Linked DNA regions of Homo sapiens: region 2 is linked to region 1. The links come from fine-mapping of genetic effects on gene expression. A gene starts in region 1. The other region holds a variant in brackets. All regions are shown on one strand. Distances are from middle to middle. Region 1 holds the start of ZSCAN31 (zinc finger and SCAN domain containing 31). Region 2 has its middle 38 kb from the start of OR2B6.

Evidence for each region.
Region 2: its variant is fine-mapped to the expression of ZSCAN31 in nucleus accumbens (GTEx, PIP above 0.99).

The regions. Positions count from the first base shown.
Region 1 is chr6:28,333,646-28,338,645 of GRCh38, forward strand. ZSCAN31 (zinc finger and SCAN domain containing 31) reads right to left here and starts at 2,503. Exons shown (of 4, transcript NM_030899.5): 1 at 2,437-2,503. RefSeq lists an enhancer at 2,049-2,168.
Region 2 is chr6:27,992,412-27,997,946 of GRCh38, forward strand. No RefSeq gene overlaps it. Among named protein-coding and RNA genes, the nearest start is that of OR2B6, 38 kb to the left of the region's middle. The variant C/T (reference allele first, on the strand shown) is at 2,537.

The DNA of each region.
Region 1 (5,000 bases):
GGGGAAGAGCACTCTGGACTATCCAAAGGCCCTGAGGAAGTGCATGCTGCCATCAAAGACAGGAAAGGAGGCTGGAGTGTCTACAGTCATGTGGGAGAAGAGTGGCAAAATATTAGGCTGGCAAGCCAAGCAGGAGTCAGATCATGTAGGGCATAGGAGTTAGGATTTTATAAATGCAATGAGAAACCACTGAAGGCTTTAAGAAAGGGAGTGACAAGGCTGAATTCTGTACCGAGAAGCTCTGCTACTGGATGGAGAATGAGCTGAGGGAATGAGGGTAGAGGCAAAAGTGGAAGCAGAAAGCAAGAGTAGAAGCAGAAGAGGCAAGAGTTAAAAAAAAGGGTAAAGTGGAGGGGGTGAAGACTATTGCACTGAATCTAGAAAGACTTCCACTTAGTTTAGATGTTACTGTACAAGTGAAAGGAGAAAGAGCTTAACCTTTGTAAAAGCAGTTCAGTCACTGGACAATCAATTTATGGAGCTGAGCTAAGAGCTTGGAATATAGAGGTGTTTATAGCTCATGAGGATATAGTTACAATACAATAAAATAAAAGCCATAATTTAAAAAATGTATACAAGGTATACCCCTGGAGGAAGTGGAAGAGCTCATCCTAAATACAAGATTAAGTTTTTATGCATTGCCTGTAATCCACAAAGGAATTCATTTCACATATATTTACTAAGTGTTTACGAGGTGTCAGACAGCAAAGAGTGAAACAATGCAGAATTTGATGTGTCCCCACTGTCCTTCACCGAAATAAAAACATGGCAGAAAGAGCATAAAAGAGAATGTTTTCATTCATGAGAATGTTTTCATTCACGTCAGCATAATTAACAACAGCAACAAAGAGATCATGTAAATCACAAATCATGTGTGTTGTAAAATAAATCCCAAAGGATACCAATTACGATGACAAGAAAACAGAAGAAGACCTTAAATACCATGAGGAAACAGTCAAATCCAGAAATGGGGATGCACTACAGGAAGACTGGAAGAGCCTCCTTTTAAACAAGGCAATGGGATGGGAGGAAGGGAGGCAAAGAGTAAAATTGCCCTAGGTTAAGACTCAACTACATGCAGTGAGTGGTCTATGATTGGATCCTAGTTGGTACAAACAGGTATAAAAGACATCTGTGGGACAACAGGGGGTGGAAGGATTTAAACATGAACTAGGTGTTAGGTGAAGCGCCTACACTTAGTTGGGTGTGCTAATAATCTTGTGGTTATGTAGGGAAATGTCCCCAATTTTTAGAGATGCATTAGAAACTAGAGGTGACAAGTTATGAGGTTGGTGGTTTTTACAATATTTAAAGAAAACATATGCGACAAACATTGCATAATGTTGACTTATTAAATAAAAATTACGTGTATATAGGAAATAAGGCTTTTGACAGGGAGAGACCCTTCTCTACCTCTGGACCTCGGTTTCGCCGCAAAGCTCCGACCTCTCTAGGGGTCTCTCCCACCACCCTGTGAAAGGGCTACCTAGCTTGCCTTAGGTGGATAGCAAGGGAAGGGTCCCTGGAGAGCCTGCCCCCGCCCATGATTTAGTGTCTTATCCCCACATAACATAAAACTAAGCCTGGGGAAAAAATCAGGTTGCAGGCACCGATAAGGGAACTAGCACAGGGTGTTGTGCCTAGAGATATGCCCACGGCTGCATAGATAGAAAAACCTCGGGCCCATTTGGATAAAAACTTGCACAGAACCTCCAGCTCACTCAGATAAGGGAACAAGGCCTGACACATAATGCCTTTGTCCTTTGTATAGTCAGCAGGTTCCCAGGAAAAGTTTCTTCTCCTTTTGTGGGTATGGACACGGTGGGTTCTGGTAGGTTCCGGCAGGCGCTCTACTTTCCTTTATTAGGACTATAAGCCCAGCTTCTGTGAATCATCACCTCAGCCCCTGATTGGTCCGGGGCCAAACTTTCACTTCGGCTTCTGATAGGTCCTGGGCCAAGCTAAGCAGCAGCTATGAATCATCATTTCAGCTCCTGATTGGTCCCGGACCAAGCTGAGTCAAGCGTTCGCCAGGACAGCCCGCAGACTAAGCGCATTCCCTCTCCTTTCCAGTCCATAAAAACCCCAGAACGGGCCCCATAATGGGTACTCCCGGTCGGGACCCCTTCTCTGCTGGCAGAGAGCTTTTTCCTTTCGCTTATTAAACTTTCGCTCTAACCTCACCTTTGTGTCTGCGCTCCTTTATCGTCTTGGAGGCAGGACAAAGAACTCCGGGCGTTATCTCAGACAAAGAAAGGCTGTTTAATCTTCAGGATAAGGGGCGGGACCTCCACCTACTCCACGGGGGCTTCAGGCCAGTGAATGTGTAGGGGCGGGGGTCACGCCTGCGCAGACGTTCCCTCCCCGCCTACTCCAAGGCACAGACCTGAAATCTTCTGGGAACCTGGCGGGTCGCGACAAGGGGCCAAGACTCACCTTCGGGGCACCGGCAAGCTACGGAACAGGTGGCGGGGCTGCAGCACCCCAATGACCGATCAACCGCAAAGGCCGGAAATGCGTCAGCCGTTCTGAGCCCACTGGCTGAAGCCAGGCAACTCTTTCCTTTCTAGGAATTCCAGAGGTGGCTGCTGCTTGGTGACTCCCTTATTGCAAACCCCGGGGCCAAAAATCCCAGTCCCACTGGGTGCGAGGCGGAGAAATCCGGCGAGGCATTTCTATGGGGAGCGGCCCCCAGCATTTAGGAGTTAGATGGTCATCGAGACCCAAAACATTAGAGCCGGAAGGTGTTAGGAAGATATAAACGTAGAGAGCGAGTAACAGGAGGCAATTCCACGGCCAAACAGGTTTATTTACAGGAAAAGCCTGCGAAGAGTTCCAGTTAGGAATCTGGCTGAGATCCTGATCGCTTACAAGCTGAGGCTTTTATAATAAAGTTTCTGTTGGGGAGGGGTTGGGGAAGTGCTGGCTAGTTGGAACTGTTTGGACACTTTCCAACTGGGGACAGATGTGGTTAGGGCCGTTAGGCTCTGTTGCGGTTAGAGCTGTTATGCTCTGTTGAAGCTATGGACGGGGTTGACATTTGCTTTGTTTCTTGAGAACACAGTCATCAAGGTTGTAAAATGGCATCACTATTGTTAGTCCTCACAGAAGGGACTTCATACTTTTTCTGTCTCTAATACTTACCTATTCTTCCCCGAGTCTGTCCACTTCCTCTGGTCTCTTTGACATCACAAAGGAGAGATGGTAATGGTGGGGACGAGAATACAGAGTTGTTTTTGTTGTGGTTTTGTTATTTTGTGTTTTACACTCAAACCTCTGTCTTCTGGAATCCCAAAGTCTAGAAGAAGAGCGTGTAAACAAGTAACTGCGTAAAACAGACGTGCATGTGAAATGAAGTAAAATAAAATAAGTGCTTGTAAATCGATGAGAATAGCCTCTGGAACATGCTAAGTACGTATGTAGGAAATAAATGTATGTATTAGTTTGAATTCGTGGCGTGGAAGAGAGAGGAAAACTAATGGGGCAAAACAAGACTCAGCAGGAATCTGCCAGTGTACACTGGAAAAGGAGCAAAGGAAATAAATTTCTGGGAGAGGGAATCAAATGTACAAAAGCAGAACTGGGGTGAAATCCTTTGGTACATCCAAAGAACTGGGCTGATCAGCATGACTGGAGAGTGGTATATGTGGCAGGGGCACCAGCTCTTACTTTTTTTGGATCCCTAACCAAGGAATTTGAGCAGTCTGATCAAATTTACATCTAGAAATGTTATCTTGGCAGCCATGTGGGGATGGACTGTAAGGAAATGAGACTACAGGCAGGGAGACCAGCTAGGAGACTACTACAAGAATCCAGGGTAGAGAGAGTGAGGGCCTGAATCAAGGCAGTAGCAATAGAAATAGAGAAGACAGATAATACATGTTAAGAGGTTGAATTGATTTTTTACAACTCATTCATTAATTATATAGATTCCCATTGAATGCGATCTTTGTGCCAAGGGCTTGCTGGATATAATAATAATGAAGGACACAAGGTCCTCATCCTCATGGGGTTTATAATGTAACAAGGAATACAGACAGAAAGAGACCCAGCTTATACAATTCAAGAGACCTTATTTGAGAAAAGGAATACAAAATTACAAGTACAAACATAGATATGAAAATGGAGACTTAAGTCAGGTGTAATAGCTCACGCCTGTAATCCCAACACTTTGAGAGGCCGAGATGGGAGGATCTCTTGAGTCCAGGAGTTCAAGACAAGCCTGGGCGACATAGTGAGACTCTGTCTCTGCAAAAAATAAAAAATATTATCCAGGCACAGTTACTCATGCTATTAGTCTCAGCTACTGGGGAGGCTGAGCAGGGATAATCACCAGCTGCAGTAGCCATGATCGTGCCACTGCACTCTAGCTTGAGTGACAGACTGAGACCCTGTCTCCAAAATTAAATAAATAAATAAATAAAGAAGGAAAAAGAAAAAAAACAAAAATGGAGATTTAGAATGGAAAATAGGCCAGGCGTGGTGGTTCACGCCTATAATCCTAGCACATTGGGAGGCTGAGGCAGGCAGATTGCATGAGCTCAGGAGTTCAAGACCAGCCTGGGCAACGTGGTGAAACCCCATCTCTACCCAAAATACAAAAATTAGCCAGGCATTGTGGCACATGCCTGTGGGTCTGAGGTGGGAGGATTGCTTGAGCCTGGAAGGTGGGGTTTTCAGTGAGCTGAGATTGTGCCACTGCACTCCAGCGTGGCTGACAGAGTGAGATCCCATCTCGAAAAATAAATAAATAAATATAGAATGGAAAATACATTCTTTACATCACATTACAATTTTTTTTGTAATTGTAATGATAATTACAATTACAAAACGAGACAGAACAGGGTCTCGTTCTGTCAACTAAGCTGGGGTGGAGTGGTGTGATCACTGCAACCTTAAACTCCTGTGCTCAAGCAATCCTCTTGCTTCTGCCTCCCAAAATGCTGGGATTAAAGGTGTGAGCTGCTGCCACCACATCCAGCTATACTACAAATTTTAAA
Region 2 (5,535 bases), 340 kb before region 1:
CTCTCCCACCCTCTCCATACACAAACTCCTTCACTATCAATATCCTGCACCAGAGTGGTATTTTTAATAACTTTTTTTCTAAAGAAGTTTGCAGTTCACAGCAAAATTGGGTGAAAGTTACAGAGCTCCTAAATACCCCCACCCCATACATGCATAGCTTCCTCCATTATCAACATACTCCACCAGAGTAGTCAATTTTTATAATCAATAAACTTATATTGATATATCATGATCACCCAAAGTCCGTAGTCTACATTAGGGTTCACTCTTGGTGTTGTGCATTCTATGGGTTTTGAGAAATGTATAATGGCATTTATACCCTCTTACAGTATTGTACACAATAGTTTCACTACTGTAAAAATTCTCTGTGCTCTATCTAATCATCCTTCCCTCCCACCAATCCCTGGAAACCACTGATCTTTCCACTATCTTCACCATTTTGACTCTTTCAAAATGTCAGAGAGTTAGAATCATGAAGTATGCAGCCCTTTTCAGATTGACTTCTTTCACTTAATAATATGCATTGCATTCAAGTTTCCTCCCTATTTTTAATGGCTTGATAGCTAGCTTTTTTAGCAAGAAATATTCCATTGTCTGGATATCCTACAATTTATCTGTCAAGTCATCTACTAAAAAAATTTTTGATTGTTTCCAGATTTTAGCAATTAGGAATAAATCTTCTATAAATCTGTGTGCAGATTTGTATGTAGACATGTTCTTAACTCATTTGGGTAAATACCAATGAGTGTGACTGCTGGATCACATGGTAAGCATATGTTTAGTTTTAGAAAAAACTGTCAAACAGTCTTCCAAAGTGGATGTACCATTTTGCATTTCCATCAGCACTAAATGAGAGTTACTGTTGCTCCGCATCATTGGCTTCGTTTGTGCTGTCAGTGTTTTGGATTTTAACCATTCTAATAGGTGTGTAGTTGTATCTCATTGTTTTAATTTGCAATTTTCTAATCATATATGATGTTGAGCATCTTATCACATGCTCGTTTGCCATGTATATATCTTGTATGGTGAGGTATCCATTCAGATATTTTTTTTTCTTTGAGATGAAGTCTCGCTCTGGTCCCCAGAGCACAACGGTGCGATCTTAGCTCAGTGCAACCTCCACCTCCCAGGTTCAAGCAATTCTCCTGCCTCAGCCTCCCAAATAGCTGGGATTACAGATGCGTACCACCATGCCCGGCTAATTTTTGTACTTTAAGTAGACACGGGGTTTCACCATGTTGGCCAAGCTGGTCTCAAACTCCTGACCTCAGGTGATCCACCTGCCTCGGCCTCCCAAAGTGCTGGGATTACAGGCATGAGCCACCGTGCCCAGACTGTTCAGATCATTTTTAATTGGGCTGTTCATTTTTTTATTGTTGAATTTTAAGAGTTGTGTACTTTGAATTTCCTCAAGTCCTTAATTCTTACTCAGATAATTAATCTCTGATATAATCATCCATATGTCTAAACTTTTGTGGATACTAACAATGTTATAATAAATACTCTTAATTGCTTCTTCTTATCAATATGTCTTCTGGGAATTTGGGTCTGTTTTTCATAGATATCTGCTTTATTGAAAAAAATTATATATTACGTGCAGCTTAAACTGACTAAGAAAATCACTGCTCTGCCCCAATAGGTAAAGTGAGGGGCAAAAAGAAAAAGAAATGGTAGATAAGATGACACGGAAATTCTTCCTGATCTATGTTCGTAAGTGAAAATTATCAAATTAAAGTGTACCTAATGATAATATATAAAGTAAAATGATAGCTCTTCTACAATTCCATTCTCATAGTCACCTGATTGTCTAAATCAGGGGTCCCCAACCCCTGGGCCATGGACCAGTACCAGTCCGTGGCCTGTTAGGAACTGGGCTGCACAGCAGGAGGTGAGTGGCAGGAGCTAGCATTATGGCCTGAGCTCTGCCTCCTGTCAGATCAGTGGCAGCATTAGATTCTCTTAGGAGCATGAACCCTATTATGAACTGCACATGCGAGAAATCTAGGTTGCATCCTCCTTGTGAGAATCTAACGCCTGATTATCTGAAGTGGAACAGTTTCATCCTGAAACCCCCACCAATTCGTGGAAAAAATGTCTCCACAAAACCAGTCCCTGGTGCCAAAAAGGTTTGGGATCACTGGTCTAAATGGCTTCCCTATCTGTTCAAATAGACAATTTGAGCTTAGGAAATAGCTGCATTTGGGTAACATAAGTGAGTACTTTATTTAAAAGACCATACACACATTACCCCAAACATAAAACACATGAGAGAAGGAGGCTCTGCTTTCTAATTTTTACTTTTTCTTGTTCTATAAAACTTTCTGGGAAATGTGAAGGATATCAAAATCGTACTGCATGCAGTTTCAATTGAAGCATTTGTTTACAAAAAGAATCCAGTTGTTCTAATGAAAAACATATGCTAAGTTGGATGGTGCTCTAGTAAAATAAATTAAGGAGGAATTCAATATGACCCCAAAGAAATTTGAGGAAAGTTATAAAAACATGGGAACATCTTTTGAAATGTCTTTTTAAATCA[C/T]GTTGCTTTAAAATTTTTTATATTGTATAAGCTTATTTTCCCTTGTCCATGTTAGAAAAATGTTCTACTTCTCATGCCATAGGCACTTATATGGTTTCTTCTCATGTTTGAGATGTACATGCACCCACACAAATCCAAGACATCTAGAACACTCAGGCATTTGCACCCTTGTGGAAAGAGAAGCTTACTCAGCTGCAACTGAGAGTTCTATTTTCTTATAGAGGAACACATTGTTAAATTTCAAGTAAATTCTAACCCATTAGTCCTAGGAACGTATTATGACTTCAAAGAAATTAGAGGTAAGTCATAAAAACATGGGAACATCTTTTTAAATGTGGCTTTTTAAAGCAAGTTGCTTTCTTTTTTACTGGAAAGTAAAAAAGAGAAACAGGGATTCCTTGAGCAAACCTGTATGTCACCTGTCATATCTGGAGAAGGCTCTCTAGAGCTCAAGCTGCCTAGATACGTTGTTGTGAAAAAGAAAAGAATGCCTTCCCTCAATTATAGACTTCTTACTTACAAATAAAATGGATATCTTTGAAATACTTTGTCTGAAACAGTTAAAGGCAGTTTAGACCATGATAAGTCATCTTAGCCAGTTTGGGCTGATACAACAAAATACCACAGACTGGGTAGTACAAACAACAGAAATTAGTTCTCACAGTTCTGGAGTCTGGGAAGTCTGAGATGCAGGTGCCAGCACAGTTGGGTTGTGGTGAGGGCCCTCTTCTAGATTTACAGACAACTGTCTTCTTGTTGTATCCTCACATGGTGGAGAACAGAAAGGATGAGCAACATGTCATTTCTGTTCTTATAAAGGCACAAATCCCATTCATGACTGCTCCACAATCATGATATAATTACCTCGTAAAGTCCCCATCTCCTAATATCATCACATTGGGGGTAAGGATTTCAACTCGTAAATTTTGTCATTTATGCTTGACTAAATGACAAGCATTTAGTCCATAGCATAAGTTAAAGATGTATATATGTGGAAGTAAAATATAAAACAATAATTTTTACATTTCATCTAGCATAACAGGTAGATGAAATTGTATTGTTTTAAGTTAGACTGTGATAAGTTAAAGATGTATATTGTAAAATAAAAAGTGAAACAAAGAGGGTAGAGCTAATAAGACTAAAAGAAGATAAAATAGAATCATAAAATATTCATTAATACAAAAGGAGGCAGGAAAAGAGAACAAAAAATAGATGAAAAATAGGAAATAACAACTAAGATGATAGATTCAAATGCAAGCATATTGATAATTATATTAAATTTAAATGAAGAAATATCACAAAGCAACAACCTCAACTTCCACTTTAAGAAACTAGAAAAGGGCTGGGCATGGTGTCTCACACCTGAAATCCCAGCAGTTTGGGAGGCCGAGGTGGGTGGATCACTTGAGGTCAGGAGTTTGAGACCAACCTGGCCAACGTAGTGAAACCCTGTCTCTCCTAAAAATACAAAATTAAGCCAGGTGTGGTGGCTGGTGCCTGTAATCCCCGTTATTCAGGAGGCTGAGGCAGAAGAATTGCTTGAACCTGGGAGGCAGAGGTTGCCATGAGCCAAGATCACACCAGGGTACTCCAGCCTGGGTGACAGAGTGAGACTCCGTCTCAAAACAAGAAAGAAAATAAAAGAAAAACAAAACTAGAAAAGAAGAGCAAACAGAAACCTAAAATGAACACAGCAAAAGAAATAACAAAAAGTAATCAGTTAGAAAACAAACAAACATAAAACAAAAAAGAAAACCAATAAAACCAAAAGCAGTTTCTACCTAGAATAGTCAGGAAGAAAAGATACAAATTACCAATATCAGGAATGGAAGAAGTGATGTCACTACAGATGCCACAGATACTAAAAGGATAATAAAATAATCGTATTAAATAAAGTTATTACAAATTATGCCAATGAATTCAACAACCTATGGAATGGGAAAATTTCATGAAATGTACATAATACCAAAGGCTTATTCAAGAAGAAATTGAAAATCTGAATACCAGTTAAGGAACCTGAATTTGAAATTAAAAACTTTCCCACAAAGAAAACTCCAGGACCAGATAGTCTCACCGGTGAATTCTACTACATGTTTAAGTAAAGAGTAATATCAATTCTATATAAACTCTTCCAGGAAGTGAAGCAGATTAAATACTTCCAAATGCATCCTTTGAGGCCAACACTATTCTGATAGAACCAGACAAAGTCCCTGGAAGAAAATTAAACTACAGACTAATATAACTCATGAACATAGATACAAGAATTTTTAGCAAAATTTTAGCAAATTTAATCCCATAATAAAAAGAATAATACAATCTGACCAGGTAGCATTTATCATAGGAATGAAAGGTGGGTTTACATTTAAAAACCAACCAATCTAATTTACTAGATTAACAGATTAAAAAATTAACTATATGATCATCTCAATAGAAGCAAAAATGCATTTCACAAAATTCAACATCCATCTACGATCAAATTATGAATAAAAATGTACTTCCTCAACCTGGAAAAAAAATTTCTAAACAAAACCACAGCTATGCTTTTCTCCTGGAATCAGAAAAAAAGCAATTATGTTTACTCTTGCCACTATAATTCAACATTGTACTAGAAGTTCTAGCTAGTCTAGTAGGAAAGAAAATAAAATAAAAAGCATTCATATTAAAAAGAAAAACTCTTTTTATTCATTGACCACATTATCATTTACAGAAAATTTGATAGAATCTACAACAAAAGCTATTAGATTAAAAGATGACTTTAGAAAGGGTTGAAGGTTACACGATCATTATAAAAGTTATATTGCAGGTCGGGCATGGTGGCTCATGCTTGTAATACCAGCACTTTGGGAGGCCAAGGGGGGCAGATGACCCAAAGTCAGGAGTTAAAGACCAGCCTGGCCAACATAGTGAAACCCCATCTATACTAAAAATATAAAAATTAGCCTGGCATGATGATGGGCACCGGTAATCCCAGCTACTTGGGAGGCTGAGGCAGGAGAATC